Homo sapiens: one gene and its partners. The protein of the gene in region 2 purifies or fractionates together with the protein of the main gene of each other region. This does not show direct contact. Each region holds a gene or a part of one and is shown on either strand. Other genes may lie near its edges.

What was found. Proteins that work in one complex are often made in the same cells at the same time.
Region 1: the proteins of PHB1 (region 2) and CANX purify together in Homo sapiens (affinity purification with mass spectrometry; 3 studies listed by BioGRID and IntAct, with this or other methods). This does not show direct contact.
Region 3: the proteins of PHB1 (region 2) and VDAC2 purify together in Homo sapiens (affinity purification with mass spectrometry; 4 studies listed by BioGRID, with this or other methods). This does not show direct contact.

The regions. Positions count from the first base shown.
Region 1 is NC_000005.10:179,701,927-179,708,966, forward strand, and holds part of CANX (calnexin isoform d precursor), read left to right. Parts: intron 1-3,752; coding exon of another isoform or gene 3,753-3,755; coding exon 3,756-3,926; intron 3,927-4,331; coding exon 4,332-4,405; intron 4,406-5,205; coding exon 5,206-5,264; intron 5,265-6,312; coding exon 6,313-6,454; intron 6,455-7,040. UniProt on the Homo sapiens protein: Calcium-binding protein that interacts with newly synthesized monoglucosylated glycoproteins in the endoplasmic reticulum. It may act in assisting protein assembly and/or in the retention within the ER of unassembled protein subunits.
Region 2 is NC_000017.11:49,404,883-49,411,882, reverse strand, and holds part of PHB1 (prohibitin 1), read left to right. Parts: intron 1-43; coding exon 44-205; intron 206-2,409; coding exon 2,410-2,552; intron 2,553-2,724; coding exon 2,725-2,841; intron 2,842-5,028; coding exon 5,029-5,124; intron 5,125-6,678; coding exon 6,679-6,891; 3' UTR 6,892-7,000.
Region 3 is NC_000010.11:75,220,756-75,227,795, forward strand, and holds part of VDAC2 (non-selective voltage-gated ion channel VDAC2), read left to right. Parts: coding exon 1-215; intron 216-1,496; coding exon 1,497-1,647; intron 1,648-7,040. UniProt on the Homo sapiens protein: Non-selective voltage-gated ion channel that mediates the transport of anions and cations through the mitochondrion outer membrane and plasma membrane.

The DNA of each region.
Region 1 (7,040 bases), on a different chromosome or scaffold from region 2:
GACGGGGTTTCACCGGGTTGTCCAGGCTGGTTGCGAACTCCTGAGCTCAGGCAGTCCGCCCACCTCGGCCTCCCAAAGTGCTGGGATTACAGGTGTGAGCCACCGCGCTCAGCCTTACTTATTTTTTTAGAGACAGGGTCTTGCTCTTCATCAGGCTGGAGTGCAGTGGCGTGGTTATTGCTCACTGCAGTCTCAAACTCCTGCTGTTATTGGTTCAAGTGATCTTCCTGCCTCAGTCTCCTGAGTAGCTGGATCCACAGGCGGATGACGCTACACTCAGCTAATTTTTTTTTTTTTCCTAATTTTTCATAGATACTTCGCTTTGTTGCCCAGGCTGGTCTCGAACTCCTGAGCTCAAGCGATCATCCTGCTTCCTCCAACTCCCAGAGTTCTGGGATTACACGCGCGAGCCACGATGCCAACCAGGAGACCAGAAATTAAGCTCAGCTTTCTTTCTCTCCCTTCTTCCCTCCCTCCCTCCCTCCTTTCCTTCCTTCCTTCTTTTTTAAAACTTTGTGGTATCTGTTTGTGAATTGCTTATTTTACTTACCATATTGTCTTCAAAGTTCATCCATGTTATAGCCGGTGATGGGATTTCCTTCCTTTTTGAGATTGAATAGTATTCCATTGTATGCCTATGCCACATATGGTTTAATCATTCATCCATTGATGGACACTTGGGTTGCTTCTGACTGTTGGCTGTTGTGAGTAGTACTGCTATGAACACGGGTCTGCAAATATCTCTGAAACTCTGCCTTCTTTTTCTGTTTGTTTGTTTGTTTGTTTAAGGCAGTCTTACTCTGTTGCCCAGGCTTGAATGCAGTGGTGCCATTACAGCTCACTTTATTTTTTATTTTTTTGAGACAGTCTCACTCTTGTTGGCCAGGCTGCAGTGCAGTGGCGTGATTTCAACTCACACTGCAAACTCCACTTCCCGGGTTCAAGCTATTCTCCTGCCTCAGCCTCCTGAGTAACTGGGATTACAGGCATCTGCCACCACACCCAGCTAATTTTGTGTTTTTAGTAGAGACAGGGTTTCTCCGTGGTGGTCAGGCTGGTCTTGAACTCCCGAACTCAGGTGATCCACCTGCCTCGGCCTCCCAAAGTGCTGTGATTACAGGTGTGAGCCACCACGCCCAGCCTGCCCAGCTAATTTTTGTATTTTTAGTAGAGACAGGGTTTTGCCATGTTGGCCAGGCTGGTCTCGAATTCCTGACCTCAGATGATCTGCCTGCCTTGGACTCCCAATGTGCTGGGATTATTGGCGTGAGCCACCGCGCCTGGTGGAGTGGTGGAGTCTTTTTTTTTTTTTTGAGGTGGAGTCTCTGTGGCCCAGGCTGGAGTGCAGTGGCGCCATCTCGGGTCACTGCATCCTCCGCCTCCCAGGTTCAAGCGATTCTCCTCCCTCAGCCTCCTGAGTAGCTGCGGCTACAGGTGTGCGCCACCACACTCGGCTAATTTTTTGTATTTTAGTAGAAACGGAGTTTCATCATGTTTCCCTGGCTGGTCTCCTGAGCTCAGGCAGTCTACCAGCCTCCCAACGTGCTAGGATTACAGGCGTGAGCCACCCCACCCTGCCCAACGACTCACTTAGCTTCAACCTGTCAGACTCAGGCTTCTCCTACCTTAGCCTTCTTAGTATCTGGGACAACAGGTGTGTGCTACCATACCTGGCTAAATTTTTCTTTTTTTGATTTTTTGTAGAGACAGGATAATTTTTTTTTTTTTTTGTATAGACAGGGTCAGGCTATGTTTATGTTGGCCAGGCTGGGAAATAAGGTCTTAATAGAGGAAGTTGAAGATTCCTGGGGGAATAGCATGTAGAGCAGCTATAGAGGGAGAGGGTGCTGATTACTAGCTAAAAGACTTAGAAATTTTTGCAAACATGGACTCATGATAGTTTTTGGGTGATGAGTCTTCTTGTAGGATAGCTTGAAAGAGGAGGAGGAAACTAGAGGCCCTGGTAATATAAGGTAACATTAAGTATCCTGATGTCAGTAATGGAGAAGAGTGAAAGACTATGATTGATTGGGTGACTGTGTGGGCAGAGGATGTGAGGAGAAAAGGACATCTTGTGTGTGTGTGCGCACACATTTTTAGTTGTGTATCTTCTACTTGTTTTCTCCCCCACCTTGTACCTGTACTTTCTCAAGCCCAAAAATGAAAATTTACCTGCTACCAACCACATCATCTTGTGCATCTGTGTAGCTCAGTTTTTATTTCTTTAGATCTGTGGTCCTCCGTGGAAAGAGAGCCACTACCCCAAGACACATCTAATATAATACACAGGGCGCTTACGTGGTTAGAAAAGAAGAGATAAGCCGGGTGCGGTGGCTCACTCCTGTAATCCCAGCACTTTGGAAGGCCGAGGCGGGCAGATCACGACGTCAAGAGATTGAGACTATCCTGGCCAACACGGTGAAACCCTGTCTCTATTAAAAATAACAAAAATTAGCTGGATGTGGTGGTGCACACCTGTCATCCCACCTACTTGGGAGGCTGAGGTAGGAGAATCACTTGAACCCAGGAGGCGGAGGTTGCAGTGAGCCAAGATAGTGCCAATGCATCCCAGCCTGGCGATAGAGCAAGACTCATCTCAGGAAAAAAAAAAAAAAGGAGCTTGTTTTGGCCAGGTGCAGTGGCTCACGCCTGTAATCCCAGCACTTTGGGAGGCTGAGGCAGGTGGATCACCTGAGGTCAGGAGTTCGAGACCAGCCTGGCCAACATGGCGAAACCCTGTCTATACTAAAAGTACAAAAATTAGCCGGGCATGGTGGTGGGTGCCTGTAATCACAGCTACTCAAGAGGCTGAGGTGGGAGAATTACTTGAACCTGGGAGGCGGCGGTTGCAGTGAGCTGAGATGGTGCCACTGCACTCCAGCCTGGGCGACAGAGGGAGAATCCATCACAAAATAAATAAATAAAATATATAAATTTTAAAAAGTAGCTTGTTCTTAGTTTAATATTCTTTTTGAGTTCTAAAACGCTAATTTGAAAACATGTCTATTGATGATATTTGAGCAACCGTATCCATATTAAGCCTTAATATGAGAGGAATTATCTTCTGTGTTAATTTTTTTTTTTGAGACGAACTCTTGCTCTGTCACGCAGGCTAGAGTGTAGTGGCGTGCTCACTGCAACCTCCACCTCCTGGGTTCAAGCAGTTCTCCTGACTCAGCCTCCCAAGTAGCTGAGACTACAGGCGCCCGCTATCGCTCCCAGCTAATTTTTGTATTTTTAGTAGAGAAGAGTTTCGCCATGTTGGCCAGGCTGGTTGTGAACTCCTGACCTAGTGAGCCACCTGCCTCGGCCTCCCAAAGTGCTGGGATTACAGGCGTGAGCCACGGCGCCCGGCCATCTCTGTTATTTCATTGTAATGTTTTAACGGGTACCCCCTGTAAATTAGTGTATGAAAGGGCTTTTGTCTGTTGTAAAGCACTTTACAAATGCAAAAGTTTGTTGGAAATTGTATTTGAATGCCCCACATCTGTGTAACCAATCCTCTCTATATGAGGATGTTGTGTATGTTTCAGTTTTATTTTGAAATTTTCCAGAAATGGAATCTTTTAACTGATTTTAGGGAAACCCTTTAATCTCTCTAGGCTGCCTTTCTTTATCTATGAAATGAAATAGTAAGTTCTTTTTAGCTCTGCGATTTAAAAGCTTTAATTTTAAATGAGAGAGTGGTTAGTGATCTTCATGAAGTTTGATAGGTGGCAATACATTTAACTGATTTTGCTCTTTATGTGTAGATCATGGAAGGGAAGTGGTTGCTGTGTATGTTACTGGTGCTTGGAACTGCTATTGTTGAGGCTCATGATGGACATGATGATGATGTGATTGATATTGAGGATGACCTTGACGATGTCATTGAAGAGGTAGAAGACTCAAAACCAGATACCACTGCTCCTCCTTCATCTCCCAAGGTTTGAAATGGTCTTTGAATCTATTCCTTTTACGTCTTGAGATGATAAAATTATGAAGATACCCGGGTGCAGGGAAATGTAGTCTCAACTACTCAGGAGGCCTAGGACAGGAGTGTGAGTCCAGCCTTGGCAACACAGGGAGATATCATCTCTAATAAAATATAAAAGAAAAACATGGTGAAGATAAATTTGGAACGTTTTCAAAGGGAAAGCAAAATTCGTGAAAATACTTATTGATCTCTCTGGCAGCCTTTGTCTTGCTAGAGGCCAATTATATGGGTTGAATTTGAAGGCCAGCTATGAAATTTTTGTGACAGTTGAAAGCAAACCAGGAGAATAGATTCTAGATAAAAAGGCATGTTGCTGAAAATTTAAATTTTTAATTCATTTATGTATTTAACACAGGTTACTTACAAAGCTCCAGTTCCAACAGGGGAAGTATATTTTGCTGATTCTTTTGACAGAGGAACTCTGTCAGGGTAAGTGTTTTCCAGAGAAATATATGTTAGAGGCAGACATGTAAATAAGATGGGATAGTAGATTCCTTTTTGGATAGCATCTTTTATAGTGAAATGTCTAACTTTATTTTATTTTATTTATTTATTTTTTGAGACAGAATTTCGCTCTTTTGCCTGGGCTGGAGTGCAATGGCGTGATACCGGCTCATTGCCACCTCCGTCTCCTGGGTTCAAGTGATTCTCCTGCCTCAGCTTCCCAAGTAGCTGGGATTATAGGCATGCGCCACCATGCTGGCTAATTTGTGTGTGTGTGTTGTTATTTTTTTAGTAGAGATGGGGTTTTGACATGTTGGCCAGGCTGGTCTTGAACTCCTGACCTCAGGTGGTCCACTTGCCTTAGCCTCCCAAATTGTTGGCATTACAGGCATGAGCCACCGCACCTGGCCTGAAATTTCTAGCTTTAATATCTTCAGTGTTAACATCCATGCAGGAAAATAGTCTTTTGGAATTTGTGGTTTTTACTTCCACTTCTTTCCCTCCCCCACTCTACCCTATATTTTGTTCTTTGATTGAGGAAAAAAATTTTCTCTTGATGTTAAAACATCAGTGGAATTATCTCATAGGTTTGGTACTTTTTCATATAGGTTTGTGAGTTGAAGATAATGTATTATCATTAGTTGTGTGACAGATTTAAAGGTTGGAAGTAGAGTGGTTAAATAGGCTAAGAGCAGAATAGGTCCTACTTTAATGAGTATTTACATAATTTTCCCTCACAAGTCAACTGTCATTTTAAGACTGATTTTGGGATTTGTTATTTACAGGTGGATTTTATCCAAAGCCAAGAAAGACGATACCGATGATGAAATTGCCAAATATGATGGTGAGAATCCCATTTGGTTTAGATATAATAGCAGATAGAGGTTTGACATGTTGTCTCCATGGCATTTCCTAAGACTAGTTTAAAAGGACATAGTAGGCTTTAAGATTTTTCCAGCCAGGTGCGGTGGCTCACGCCTGTAATCCCAGCACTTTCGGAAGCCAAGGCGGGCAGATCACGAGGTCAGGAGATCGAGACCATCCTGGCTAACACAGTGAAACCCCGTCTCTACTGAAAATACAAAAAATTAGCTGGGCGTGGCAGCGTGCATCTGTAGTCCCAGCTGCTGGGGAGGCTGAGGCAGGAGAATGGTGTGAACCCGGGAGGCCAAGCTTGCAGTGAGCCGAGAACGCGCCACTGCACTCCAGCCTGGGTGACAGAGCGAGACTCCGTCTCAAAAAAAAAAAAAAAAAAAAGATTTTTCCATGGAAGTTTTGCCACCTTTGTGTGTTGCCTAATTTTTTTTTTTTTTTTTTTTTTATTTAAGGTTCAGGGGTGCATGTGTAGCCTTATATTTAATAGGATTAGATCTGTTTAATCACCTGTGCTACTGAATGTTGGAAATTTCTAGACAGTAGTATAATACACTACAGTTTTAAAAAGCCATATCTGAATAATATTTGCCAAATAAAGTGTGTTTATTTATTATTTATTTACTTTTTTGAGACGGAGTCTCATTCTTGCCACCCAGGCTTCTGGAATAGAGTGGCGTGATCTTGGCTCACCGCAACCTCTGTTTCTTGGGTTCAAGCGATTCTCCTGCCTCAGCCTACCGAGTAGTTGGGATTACAGGTGCCCATCACCACGCCCGGCTAATTTTTGTGTTTTTATTAGAGATGGGGTTTCACCATGTTGGCCAGGCTGGTCTCGAACTCCTGACCTTGAGTGATCCGCCTGCCCTCAGCCTCCCTAAGTGCTGGGATTATAGGTGTGAGCGACCACGGCTGCCCCAGTATAATATATTTATGCAACTAGGAGGTGTTTTTTTTGGCATTTAAAGGACCTTCAGAGGTAGAGTTAAGCAGTGGAACTTTTTTGTGTTGTCTTGTAGGAAAGTGGGAGGTAGAGGAAATGAAGGAGTCAAAGCTTCCAGGTGATAAAGGACTTGTGTTGATGTCTCGGGCCAAGCATCATGCCATCTCTGCTAAACTGAACAAGCCCTTCCTGTTTGACACCAAGCCTCTCATTGTTCAGTAAGTGAAATGCTTGTTGGATAAAAGCTTTCTGCAAAGGGTAATCTTAGAAGACATTATGTAACTTTTACTCTATGTTAAAAAATTATGAGATTATATAAGTGGTGGTAGGGATTTTTGGGTGAATTTAAACACCTTGTAATTAATAGTTTTTCCTGGCTAATGCATTATTTTGAAAGAAACTGGTTACTTATTTTCCTGACTCTAAATAACTTGTAGATTTTGCAGAACAAATTTACCGGAAATCTGCATTAATAGTTTTTGTAATTAATTAATTACAAAACTAGTAATTAATAGTTTTTCCTGCCTAATGCATTATTTTGAAAGAAACTGGTTACTCATTTTCCTGACTCTAAATAACTTGTAGATTTTGCAGAACAAATTTACTGGAAATCTGCATTAATGTTCAATTTAATTTTATTTATTTTTGTGGCATTTGATAACTATTCAAAAACAATAGAAGATGGAATCCTTTGTAAGGGTAAACATTTGACCTATGATAAAACGTGACTAAGATGAGGGAGAGAGGAAATACATTAAGAGAGTTTCGATCTTTCAAAATGCCATACAGTTTTCTGCTTTTCTC
Region 2 (7,000 bases):
GATGAGAGGATTTTTATGACATGTCATTGTCCTTTCTTCCTAGTGGATGCTGGGCACAGAGCTGTCATCTTTGACCGATTCCGTGGAGTGCAGGACATTGTGGTAGGGGAAGGGACTCATTTTCTCATCCCGTGGGTACAGAAACCAATTATCTTTGACTGCCGTTCTCGACCACGTAATGTGCCAGTCATCACTGGTAGCAAAGGTGAGTCTTGCCTATGGTTCAGGTAAAGTAGGGAGTGTGGAAGAGGTGCTCTGTTCTTCTGTGTCACAGGAGCATCTGTGGGATACCAGGATCCAAAAGAGTTTGAACTGTACATCATAGGAATGACTAGACTACTTGCCCTGGAGAGCTTGATATGGAATCTTAGAAATACCCACTTATGGCTGGGTGCGGTGGTTCATGCCTGTAATCCCAGCACTTTGGGAGGCTGAGGCAGGTGGATCACCTGAGGTCAGGAGTTCAAGACCAGCCTGGCCAATGTGGTGAAACCCCATCTCTCCTAAAAATACAAAAATTAGCCGGTGGTGGGGGGTGCCTGTAATCCCAGCTACTTGAGAGGCTGAGGCAGGAGAATTGCTTGAGCCTGGGGGGCGGAGGTTGCAGTGAGCTAAGATTGTGCCACTTCACTGCAGCCTGGGCAACAGAGTGAGACTCTGTCTCAAAAAAAAAAAAAAAAAAAGCCTGCTTCTAATCTTCCCATCTCTTTGGAATTTCTTTCCGTACTGTTTTGCAGTTGTTTTCAGGATACATTATGTACCTATTTCTAAAACTATTGATAGGAGCTTCCAGAGATCAGGGAGTTGTAGGTATTAATACATTGCCCACCTCTCTTGGTGCCCAGTTCAGGGCTGTCTCATGGGCGCTTGGTCCATATTGTTGACATCTGTAAGCAAGCCGTGACAGTGCTTTGGCTCCAGGCAGGCCTGAATTGTCCAGGGGAAAGTATAATTCTCTCCCTGGATCCTTTAAATGGTCCAAGTAATGAGAAGCAGAACATAGGATCAGTCTGTTAACCCCTTATATGTGTTACACATTTGACAGAGTGCTTTTACGTCTGTTTTCTCCTTCAATTTTCCCCAACATTTCCGCAAGGCCCAGAAAGCAAATGAAATTGTCCCCATTCTCATAGACAGGGAAATAAGCTCAGGTTGGCTAAGGCTTAGAGAGGCCACATCATTAGTAAATAGCCCAGATCTTTGGACTGATAGTCTAACACCGTTTCCACCAGACCCGAACTAACCTCTCCAAGGCTGACTCCTGACTTGGCCACAATCACCAGAGCATGTAAAGGCCTCACCCTACAATTCTTAGCATTGCCCTGTCTATTGTCTTAAAATGTTCAGTGTTGCAAACTTTGCATGGCACCTGTTAGACATATAATCTGAATTATGTATATCTGAGGGCATTCAGGGGATACCAAAAAGCTGCTATCACTGAAGCCTCTTAAGAAATTATAAACTCTTTATGATGCTCTATTGGGTTCTCTGCCAAGGAAACCAGGCATACCTGCACCTTGCCCTCTGGGATCTTATAATCAGCAGATTTGCTTATAAATTGTAGCAAATTTGGAGCCAGGCACAGTGGTGCGTGTCAGCTACTCAAGAGGCTGAGGCAGGAGAAATGCTTAAGCTCAGGAGCTTGAGTCTAGCCTGGGCCACATAGCAAGACCTTGTCTCTAAAAATAAAAAATAAAAATTGCCAGGCGTAATGGCTCACACCTGTAATTCTAGCATTTTGGGAGGCTGAGGCAGTTGGATCACTTGAGCCCAGGAGTTTGAGACCAGCCTGGGAAATATGGCGAAACCCCAGCTCTACAAAAAGTACAGAGATTAGCTGGGCGTGGTGGTCTGTGCCTGTGTAGTCCCAGCTACTTGGAAGGTGTAGGTGGGAGGATCAACTGAGCCCAGGAGGTCAAAGCGGCTACAGTGAGCTGTGATCTTACCACTGCACTTCAGCCTGGGCAACATGTGACCCTGTCTCAAAATACATAAATAAAAATTGTAGCAAATTGGAGTAGGAGAGGTCATATAAAAGACCACTTGTGGCCAGGTGCGGTGGCTCACACCTGTAATCCCAGCACTTTGGGAGGCTGAGGCAGGTAGATCACCTGAGGTCAGGAGTTTGAGACCAGCCTAACATGGTGACACCCTGTCTCTACTAAAAATACAAAACAGCTGGGTGTGGCGGCGCGTGCCTGTAATCCCAGCTACTCAGGAGGCTGAGGCAGGAGAATTGCTTGAATCTGGGAGGCAGAGGTTGTAGTGAGCCGAGATTGTCCCATTGTACTCCAGCCTAGGCAACAAGAGCAAAAACCTGTCTCAAAAAAAAAAAAAAACAAAAAAAAAACACTTGTTTTCCTACAGTGGTTTTTATTTTTAACTCCAGTGTTTGTCCCCTACCCTAAGATTTACAGAATGTCAACATCACACTGCGCATCCTCTTCCGGCCTGTCGCCAGCCAGCTTCCTCGCATCTTCACCAGCATCGGAGAGGACTATGATGAGCGTGTGCTGCCGTCCATCACAACTGAGATCCTCAAGTCAGTGGTGGTGAGTGAACAGGGGCCTTTAGCCTCGAGCCCAGAGCACCACCCTGGGAGGGTGCCAGGTGGCAGGAAGCGCTTGGCAGTGGGTTGGTTGGGATGTGGCTGCTAGTTTCCTGGTTCCTTTTCTGCTTCCTCATTAACCTGACCTGCCCTTCTGCTCCTCCCTTTGAAACCAGGCTCGCTTTGATGCTGGAGAACTAATCACCCAGAGAGAGCTGGTCTCCAGGCAGGTGAGCGACGACCTTACAGAGCGAGCCGCCACCTTTGGGCTCATCCTGGATGACGTGTCCTTGGTAAGATCCTTCGGGAGACCGAGGAGGGGAAGGGGCTGCAGTTCTCGTTTAGGTGCCTGGCTCCATTTCTGGGTAGACGCTATTAGGTCCTCCCTTCTGCTTTGCTAGATGTGAGACTTGAAAACACGGAAACATGCTGAGGTGAGGCAGTCTCCGTGGGTTTTTCAGTTGAGGGTTCTTTTACCTTCCCCCTGCCACACACATTTTTCTTATGACCTCTGGTTGTATCCAGATAGTCTCTAACCACTAAATGTTTTACCTTCTCCAAACTGTTACCCAGAGAGTGATGCCTTGTTAACCCTGTTTGACACAGGCAGAAACTGCCTGGTAGAGACCAGAGAACAGCTCGGGTAGTCCTTCTCCCTAGCACAGACCTCCCAGCCTGACTCCTGGGAGCTTCCTAACACTTTACAGTCCGAAGCTCAGTGAAGTAAGCTCTGGGAACCCCAGTGAAAGGTGATAGAGTGTAAACGAACGGTTGGATTCCCCCAGGCCTGGTATAGGGGGCAAGGGACATCTCTGAGGCGTAAGCTATCCTCTTGAGACACTATAGCTTGTGTGTTTATATGACATTGGATGTCATAACTCAGAAAGCAATGCAGGCAGGATAGCGTTTCAGGTTGAGGAGGGTGAGGGGAAGGGGTCGTGTTTCTAGATTCTCTGGGAAAAACCATTTGGAGTGATTTGTTCGGGCAGTGAGGTAAAGTGTTTCCTGTTCAGTTCTCCCGTGCATTGCTAGGGAAAGGCACTGCCTCCCCCGGCATCTGTGCAGCTGTTTAAACAGCCACTTGACAACACCCAGTGCTAACCCCTGGGCACTGCTCCACCTTGCTCCGCCTGCTGGAAGTCCTGGGGGCTTGGGGCTCCCTCTGCTGGCAAGAGGCCAGGCTGCAGCCATTCTGTGGGCCCTTCCCTCGTAATTACCGTTAACCTGAACACCTTGGCTGTGAGAAAACGCTGAGTAAAAACCTAAGGGAAAAGTTGGCATTTTACTAGACTTTAACCACATACTCCATTCTGGGGAAATGTGGGCTGACCACAAGAAACCCTATCTAAGGTGTGAGAAGAAAATTAGGTTTCATGGGGAATTTGCTGCCCTCAGCTGGCCCTTGTAGAAATAAATTTTATTCCTTAATTATACATTTCATTTTTCATGTCTCAGGATCAGATTTTCTTACCCAAACTTTGACTAAGAAACTAGAAATGGATCAGGCGAAGTACAACAGCTGCAGTTAGAGTTAGGAGGTTAAAAATTCTGGAAGAGAATGAGACCAGGATTTACTCTTCAGGAGAAGTTTGGAGCTGCTTTTTTAAAAAGCAGAGGTTGGGAGAGTGGAGGAAATGAAACAACTAGAATTTGATGGCAAAACCAATGCTCTTCTCTTGATTCTTTTTCAATAAAAATTAGGATGAATAAGTAAATTGCTCTAGGCTGGGCATTAGGAATTCTGAGGTCCCTTCCCATTGTTTGTGCTATCTTTAGGGACAGTCCCGTCAGACCTGACATGATTAGGGAAGGTCTATGGATCATCAGACTTCTAAACCCTCATGCCGACCAATGACTTTACCTGCTTTCTCTTTCTTTTAAACCGTTTAACAGAACCATTCACATTGGGAATACCATGATTTGCGTTCCACCGTCCCTCGTCCTCTTCCTGTTCAGTGGTGGAGCTGCTGTGGGAAGACGCGGACTGGTTAATCCATAAACAGAGAGCATCAGGCTCTTGGATCCCTGGGAACCAGCTGCCTCCCTCACTCTCAGGGACCCTGTTTTCCATCTGGCCTTCCTTGGGCTTTGAACAAGGCATCAAAGGCCCTTGGAAGAGCACTAGTCAGTGGCGGGGGTCTTAGAACCCACAGTTCTCCTCCTCTGGGGAGGTGGTCGATTGAGTAGATACCTTCTGGTGCCTGTGGGCCCCATCAAAAGCCCCCGGTGCCATTTGCTACATGAGGTCACTGTACTGAGAGTGACAGAGTAATATACAGGAGCAGTTTGGGCAGCCAGAGAGTCTGGGTGTAAACTCAGTTTGGATACAGATACGGAGGTGGAAGAGTGTTCTGGCCTCACGGATGCCTCCAGCTGCTAGAGCCATTGCTGGCCTCTTCTTCCAGCGGCCATGGAGCCCTCCCAGCAGTGCTGTCGAAGCAATCACACTGCCTCATCTTGTGCTCACTCTCTCCCCTTAGACACATCTGACCTTCGGGAAGGAGTTCACAGAAGCGGTGGAAGCCAAACAGGTGGCTCAGCAGGAAGCAGAGAGGGCCAGATTTGTGGTGGAAAAGGTGAGCCTTCGACCAGATGGCAGGAGCCTCTCTCTCCCCTTTCTCCGGCACTCAGCTTCCCCATTTGCTGGGTGGCCTGGAAATTCATCATCTGTCATCCCTTCTTCCGGGATAATCAGAAGGGGCTTGAAGGAATTGTACTTCTGCAATTGGTTCCAGAGTCTTCAGGGGCTAGTCAAGGATATGTGGAGTTATGTTCCTAAATCACTGAAGGGTAATTTTTCTTCCACTTCTCTGAGATCAAAAACACTCTCTTACAAATAAAAATGTTTCTCCTGGAGTATTTTCAGCTTCACTGAGAAGTCATTTTTAACCATAGTTACATAGTGAAAGCTGACAGCAAAAAAGATCAAACGTTGCACCAGATGTGCTTTCGTCACTAGATTTTTTTCTAGTGCTAAATCCATCCAGATGTGTCAAAGAATGTGATGGGACACAGTGTATTTGCGTAGCAGCCTGGTCTTTCTGGTATTTGCAAAGACATGTTCATTTATTGTTGTCCCCTTCTTCCCACCACCAGTATCCCTAATTGGTGGGGAGATGGGGACAGCAAGAAATAAAATGGGAAAAGAGGGATAGATTTAATTTTGGAGAATGAAAACACTGTGTGGGCAGAGACTTGTGTTGCTTTGTATCTGCCATAACTTCAGAGATTATAATAAGTCTAGTACAGTGCCTGGTGATAGTAGGTATACAGTAAATGTTTGTTGAGCAAATAGACGCAGGGCCCAGTCATTTCAAAATTGTATGTAATTTCAGGGAGGCTTAATACTGTCTTCTTCCTCACACTCCTGAAGGTCACACGTTGCAGAGAGCTGTCTTCCTATTGATATTGGTAGGGCAAGCCTAGGAGATCTCACTCTGGGTGCCTGGATTCTGGTCAGGAACCAGCCTAACTCACAGGCAGCTCTAGGAACAGTCAAAAGTGCATGCTGCTCTTCCTTAGCCATCCCGAGGTTTTTTGTTTGTTTGTTTGTTTGTTTGTTTGTTTGTGACAGCTCTGTGGCCCAGGCTGGAGTGCAATGGCATGATCATAGCTCACTGCAGCCTTGGCCTCCTGGGCTCAAGTGATCCTCCTGCCTCCGCCTCCCAAAGTGCCAGGATTACAGGCATGAGCCACCACACCCGGCCCTGTCCTGGCTTTGATGAAGTCCTTTAGACTTAAGGCTGGAGGAAAAGATGAGCCTTGAGGATTGATTCCACCTTTCTTTTGCTTCTGTTTTCCTTGGCCTTGGCTTCTCCTGGCTCAGAGTAGGGTTGTTAAACTAGATTGCAATTAATATTAATGAGGACTTTGAAATAAGACAAATATTCCTGCAGCCAACAGAGATGTATCCCTCCCGTGACAAGGAGTGAGCATGAAAGGATAGGGGAGGACTGGTGGGCAATGTGCTCTGCTTCCCCCCGCTTCCCCCGCTAGCCATCAGGAGGAAGTAAACTCCCCGAGTTCCTTCAGGAGCCTGGGAAGGTGGCTTTCTGGTGAAGGGCCTTTGGTTGTAGCCTGACATGCGGTGCCCTGAGGTTTGATCTTTGTCTCCACCTCCATTCTTTTAGGCTGAGCAACAGAAAAAGGCGGCCATCATCTCTGCTGAGGGCGACTCCAAGGCAGCTGAGCTGATTGCCAACTCACTGGCCACTGCAGGGGATGGCCTGATCGAGCTGCGCAAGCTGGAAGCTGCAGAGGACATCGCGTACCAGCTCTCACGCTCTCGGAACATCACCTACCTGCCAGCGGGGCAGTCCGTGCTCCTCCAGCTGCCCCAGTGAGGGCCCACCCTGCCTGCACCTCCGCGGGCTGACTGGGCCACAGCCCCGATGATTCTTAACACAGCCTTCCTTCTGCTCCCACCCCAGAAATCACTGTGAAATTTCATGA
Region 3 (7,040 bases), on a different chromosome or scaffold from region 2:
AAAATCAAGTCTTCTTACAAGAGGGAGTGTATAAACCTTGGTTGTGATGTTGACTTTGATTTTGCTGGACCTGCAATCCATGGTTCAGCTGTCTTTGGTTATGAGGGCTGGCTTGCTGGCTACCAGATGACCTTTGACAGTGCCAAATCAAAGCTGACAAGGAATAACTTTGCAGTGGGCTACAGGACTGGGGACTTCCAGCTACACACTAATGTGTAAGTATTTCTTTCATAGGATACTGTGATGTGGGCCCTCAGAGGATGATTTTGATGTCTGTCATCTTATTGATCTGGGTGCACCCTAAAGGATTTCTCATAACATTTAAAAACAAAATCATTCTTGGTCATTTCTAGGGTGCCCCTTGAAAGTTTATAGTAGAAGACTGTTAGTCTGACCTTTGGTGCTGAGAGAGTAAATGTTCATTTTATATGGGGTTTAATGTGCTTTGTATTTTTACAAGAGGCATTATATATTGGCAGACTGCTACCAGTACATTCATTTTACTTAATTATTTTGATGTGTGAGATGCTGACTTGATAGGATTGCCTAAAATGTATGGTGTTTTGTGGTTGGGTTTTTTTTTCTTTTTCTTTTTTCTTTCTTTTTTTGTTTTGGTTCAGACAGAGTCTTGCTCTTTTGCGATCTCGGCTCACTCCAACATCCGCCTCCCGGGTTCAAACAATTCTCCTGCCTCAACCTCCCAAGTAGCTGGGACTACAGGCGTGTGCCACCATGCCTGGCTAATTTTTGTATTTTTGGTAGAGACGGGGTTTCACCATGCTGGCAAGGCTGGTCTGGAACTCCTGACCTCGTGATCTGCCAAAGTGCTGGGATTACAGGCGTGAGCCACTGTGCCCGGCTATTGTTGTTTTTTTGTTTGTTTGTTTTTAATTATTTTTGTAGAGATGGGGTCTTGCTATGTTGCCCAGGCTTGTCTCAAACTCCTGGCCTCAAGCGATCCTCCCGCCTCAGCCTTCCAAAGTGTTGGGATTATAGGCGTGAGCCACTGCATCCAGCCTGGTGTTTTTACCTAGCCCAAACTAGATAGATACATAGAAAGTACTTAAAATGTTTTTCTTTCCATTGTAAAAATTCATTGGTAAATAACAGAAGCACAAAGAAGAAAACCTACGTTTCTTACAATCATGCCAGCTAGGTATATAATCTTTGTTAATGTTGTGGTTCACCTTTTTATATGTGTGTGTATATATACTTATATATAAAATACGTAACCAAAAGGCTGTTTGAGAACCTCTTGCATGTTTAATACAGTGTGATAATTCCACTGAATGGATATTCTGTGGTTCATTTTACCAATCCCTGTATGGGTATGGGTTGGGGAAAAAAACCTGTTAAAACTTGCAAGTTTTCAGTGGAACACTAAAGACCCACTTGAGCTGTGGTTTTTTATTTAAATGTAATGCTACAAATCAGCCTGTGCCTTAGACATTATTACATTGTCTATTCTAGATCTACTAATTTAAAATATCTTATAGCAATGATGGGACAGAATTTGGAGGATCAATTTATCAGAAAGTTTGTGAAGATCTTGACACTTCAGTAAACCTTGCTTGGACATCAGGTACCAACTGCACTCGTTTTGGCATTGCAGCTAAATATCAGTTGGATCCCACTGCTTCCATTTCTGTGAGTACTTTTGTGGACTTAGAATGGGGGTTTTGGTTGTGGGAATGAGTCTTTGGGTATACTGAATTATGTTGAAAATTTGAACTGATTTCACACAGTCCCCAGTTTACAGATAGATTAGTTTTAGATTTTGAAATGCGCTTTTTTGATGGATACAGTGTTAGACGTTTTATTTCCAGGCCAGGCTGGTGGAGTTTGTTTAACCTCAAAAGCTGCCGAGTTAATGTTGATGATAACCTTGAGCCATAGGCCTGTCTAAGTCCAGGTATAGCTGGTGTTTGGTCCCTGAGTGGTTCTTACTGTGTCAGAAATAATAGTGCTTTTTTAAGGCTCTCTGTTGTCGAGGCTGGACTGCAGTGGCACAATCACGACTCCCGGCACCTTGACATCCTGGGTTCAACCTCAGCCTCCTACTATTCCCAACTAATTTTTTGATGTTTTTTTGTAGAGATGGGATCTCCATATGTTGCCCATCCTAGGCTCAAGCTATCATCCTGTCTCAGCCTCCCAAAGGAGGCTGTTGGGATTATAGGCATGAGCCACTGCACCTGGCTAGTATTTTAATCATCACTTTGTCTTTTTTTTTTTTTTTTCTTTTTTGAGATGGAGTCTCTGTCGCCCGGGCTGGGGTGCAGTAGTGCGATCTTGGCTCACTGCAACCTCCGCCTCCTGGGTTCAAGCAGCTCTTCTGCCTCAGCCTCCTGAGTAGCTGAGATTACAGGTGCCCGCCACCACACCTGGCTAATTTTTTTGTATTTTTTAGTAAAGATGGGATTTGTTGGCCAGACTGGTCTCAAACTCCTGACCCCAAGTGATCCACCCGCCTCAGCCTCCCAAAGTGCTGGGATTACAGGCATGAGACACCACAGCTGGCCGCCTTCTCCATTTCTAATTGCACTACAGCAATAAAAACCTCAAGATTCATACAGTACACTATTCTGTTACTTACATTGATGTTCTTGGATGTCTGTGGCATTTTAACAGATTTAATGTAAGTGGAAGAAGCTTCTCTCAGCTACTAGGAGTTCATAGTTAAAATGGGAAGGCAGCTTGGGACCCCTGTGTCATTTAATGACTCCTGGGAATTAGTTTGGAAATGTACCTAGCCTTTCCCACTTCAGTAATGTTAGCTGCCACTCCAATTCAGCAGTACCCAGAAGCATTGCTTAATGCTCCTTGTGATATTAGGAAGTATATATTTGGTTCTCCTTCCCTCTCCTGGCATAGAACTCCTAAAAAATCCTTGGAATCCCGAAAGTATTAAGTATCTTTTTGTATGCTAATGAGTTTTGACTGGTGGCTGGCCACCTTTAGGTAGCTTCGGGCTGGAGGCTAGTCAGTGGAGAGACCAAGGTGTGATTAGAGGGGGTGGGGAGAGGGGCTGTAGGTTTAATTGTTCACCAATGGCTAGTGGTTTAATCAGTCATGCCTGTATAATGAAGCCTCATGAAAACCCACAAGGACAGAGGTCAGTGAGCTAGGTAGCTGAGGTTACTGGAAGGTGGCATGTCTGGAGAGGGCATTGAAGCTGTGTCCCTTCCTATGTTTTGCACTGTACATCTCTTCATCTGTATCCTTTGTAATATCCTTTATTAAAACTGGTAAATGTAAATAAAGTGTTTCTTGAGTTCTGTGACCTGCTCTAGGAGATTAATTGAACCCAAGAAGGGGCTTGTGGGAACCTCTGTTTAGAGGTGCCAGGTCAGAAGCAGAGTTAAAACAACCTGGGGCTTGCAGTTGGCATCTGAAGTGGGAGGAGGGCAGTCTTGTGGGACTAAGCCCTTAACCTGTGGCATCTGATGTCTCCAGGTAGAATTAGAGGACATTTAGCCAGTGTCTGCTGCAGAAATTATTGCTTGCTTGGTGTGTGAGGAAAGCCCTCACACATGTGGTCACAGAAGCATTCTGTGTTGTGAGAGAATAGTAGGAGAAACTGAGTTGGTTTTTTTCTGTATCCTCAGAATTGATGTCAGGATTGGGATTTGCTAGAGTGGCTCTAGCTAGAGTGGCTCATCGAAGCATGGTTTAGGAAGAAAAAGGATAAATGGATGGGAAATGAGGAACTTTTGACTCCTGGGTGGTCAGATGGTCACCCCTGCTATGGAGCCACAACTGTGCTGTGCTCAGGTACTTAAAAATTACCAGTGGAATTCAAAGATAGATCCAACTCCAAGGGAGTTGGTTCACTGGGTGCATAAGGAAACGCAAACAATAAGAAACAAACAAAATATACAATCCCTTGATTATTGTTATTTGTGATAGCTAAAATCAAAGTGAAAGAGTGCTGGATTGTACCTTGATGCTAGACCAAGCTCAGGTTTCATTTGGTTTAAGCCTTGGCCACCAGCCTCAAAGCCACCTTGCAAGGGTAAAAAGTACCCCTAAGACCTGTATTTGCTGTATTTTGCCCAGTTTGGAGAAATTTAAAAAGTCAGAAGTTAGAGATTACATTGAGAAATGTGATCTGAAATTGCCTGGGGCAGTAGTCAGGCTTATTAATCAAGATAAAGGCTGACAAATGGGGAAGGGTAGATTTCTGTTGGAAAGGCAAAGCAAATATCTCTAATTCTTACTGATCTGTAACGAAACTGATTTTTTTTGTACCATGCTCATACTGCCATATGGTAATATTGTTGGCAGATTAAACTCCCTTGTGTAAATAAGTCTTATAATACTGATTGATGATTATATGTATTGTGAAATTGAGTTGAAGCCTCCTCAGGATATAATACCTATGGAAAGTGACTGGCCTGAGGAGGAACTGGATCTCACTATCAGCTGATTTCCATCCTGAATAGTTCTGCACAAGGTACAAATAACAGTAGATCAAGGGAAAAGAAAGCTGGTACAAGATGATAAAGATGTTTCTAATGGCTTCTGTCAACCTAAAGGAAGAAACTAAGGCACAAAATACAATTTTAAAGAATTTATTTGCACCATAATGAGGACAGCTGCCCAGCAGACTCAGATCCAAGTGGATTTGAGCTCCATTTGGCCCTTGTTACAAACAGGTTTTTAAAGGCCAAAAATTCGGGACAGGATGTGGGCTGATACAAAGTTGTTTGGCAGGAATTCTCTTTGGTTTACAGAAATAACATTGATTAGTGATTGGCTATACATTGTTCTTTGTATCACAGATTCCAGGAACATGAAGATAATGGGTGAGGGTCACATTGTGCAGTAACACTTTAGATATTTGCCAGCGAGCCTGGAAACTACAAGGAAGGAAAAAAAGAACAAAGTGTTTTTAAACAATTTCCCCTAGGCATGGGGGTGTGTCCTGTGACTAAAGTCTCATTCTCATGTCTCTCTGGGCCTGATAAACTTTGCATACCTCACATTCCTCATACTGCTGAGCTATTTTTTTTTCTCTTCATAGGACCGAGTAGGTTTTTTTTGTTTTGTTTTGTTTTGTTTTGAGACGGAGTCATCCAGGCTGGAGTGCAGTGGCGTGATCTCGGCTCACTGCAACCTCCACCTCCTGGGTTCAAGCCATTCTTGTGCCTCAGTCTCCTGAGTAGCTGGGATTATAGGTGCCCACTACCACACTCGGCTAATTTTTGTATTTTTAGTAGAGATGAGGTTTCGCCGTGTTGGCCAGGCTGGTCTCAAACTCCTGACCTCTGGTAATCCGCCCGCCTCAGCCTCCCAAAGTGCTGAGATTACAGGTGTGAGCCACTGCGCCCATCCTAGTTGCTTCTTTAAACCTATCCCTATCCCACAGTAGCTTCTCCAGATGATAGGCATATTTGTGTTTGTACTCTTGTAGATATGTCTGTTATATAAATGCAACAAGTGTAAACATCCTTGACAGATATATGGACCTTTTTGCTGTAAGGGATCCCTGTTTGAAACCAGGGGGTGGCCTATGATACTATGGTGTATATATTTTGGTTTTTGTCAAGTTCCTGGCTCACAGCTTCTATAACCCTTGCAATTTCCCAAGTGACTAGAGCCGTAAGAGTGTATTTTGTTGAGATATTTGGCCATTTGTCCTCGGTTCCTGAAACAGCTCCAGAGCATAAAAGTGAAAGACAGTCTTTTGTGGGTTTTTTTTTTTTTTTTTTTTTTTAATGAAATCTCACTGTCATCCAGGCTGGATGGAGTACAGTGGCACCATCTCTGCTCACTGCAACCTCAACCTCCGCCTCTCGGGTTCAAGCAGTTCTCGTGCCTCAGCCTACTTAGTAGCTGGGTTTGGAGGTGCCTGCCACCAAGCCCGACTAATTTTTGTATTTTTAGTAGAAATGAGGTTTCACCGTGTTGGCCAGGTGGGTCTCCAACCCCTGACCTCAGGTGATCCACTTGCCTTGGCTCCCAAAGTGCCGGGGTAACAGGAACGAGCCACTGCGCCCTGGGCTATGTTGTTATTTTTAACAGGCCTCTTTCAACCACATCTGAACTTATGTTAATGAGGTGATTTTTGGATAGTCCCTAGATGGCCACATGGTAGGGGGTGCTGGTTGCTAGGGAACAAACCTTCTGCCTTGGGGAGGGCATAGTAGCTAAAGGTTGAGCCAGTGGCCAGTGATTTAATTAATCGTGCCTTTGTAATGAAGTCTCCTTTGTAATGAAGTCTCTGTAAAAACCCAAAGGACTGAGTCCAGGGGGCCTTCAGGAAGGTAAACAATAATACATTCATGTCATGGGAGGGTGGGGCACCCCAGCTCCACAGGGATGGAAGCTCCTGTGCTTGGGACCCTTCAAGACCTCACCTATAAAGGAAAAGATATATAAGTATCTTTTCATCTGGCTGTTCATTTATATCCTTTAAAATATCCTATATAACTGGTAAATGTGTTAGTCCCTGAGTTCTGTGTGCCACCCTAGGAAATTACTTGAACCCCAGGGGGTTGTGGGAACCCCAGTTTATAACCAGTCTGTAAGAAGCAGAGGCAAAAGAACCTGGAGCTTTCAGTTAGCATTGAAAATGAGGGCGGGGCAGTTTTATGAAACTGAGCCCTGAACCTGTGTGATCCGATGCTCTCTCTCCAGGTAGATAGTATCAGAATTGAATTAGAGAACATCTAGCTGGAGTCTGCTGCAGAATCGTTTGCTTGATGTGTGGGAAATTCTCCCTAGGCCTTATGAGAGTATAGAGGGAGAAACTGAGTTTATTTTTTCTACTCCTTATCACAGTTTCATGGTTTAACTCTTACTGTTAAATAATAGGAATTTTTTTTTTTTTTTTTTTTTGGAGACAGAGTCTCACTTTGTTACCCTGGCTGGAGTGCAGTGGTGCGATCTCTGCTCTGCTCACTGCAACCTCTGCCACCCGGATTCAAGTGATTCTCCTGCCTTAGCACCCCGAGTAGCTGGGATTACAGGCGCCTGCCACCGTGCCTGGCTAATTTTTGTAGTTTTAGTAGAGACGGGGTTTCACCATCTTGGCC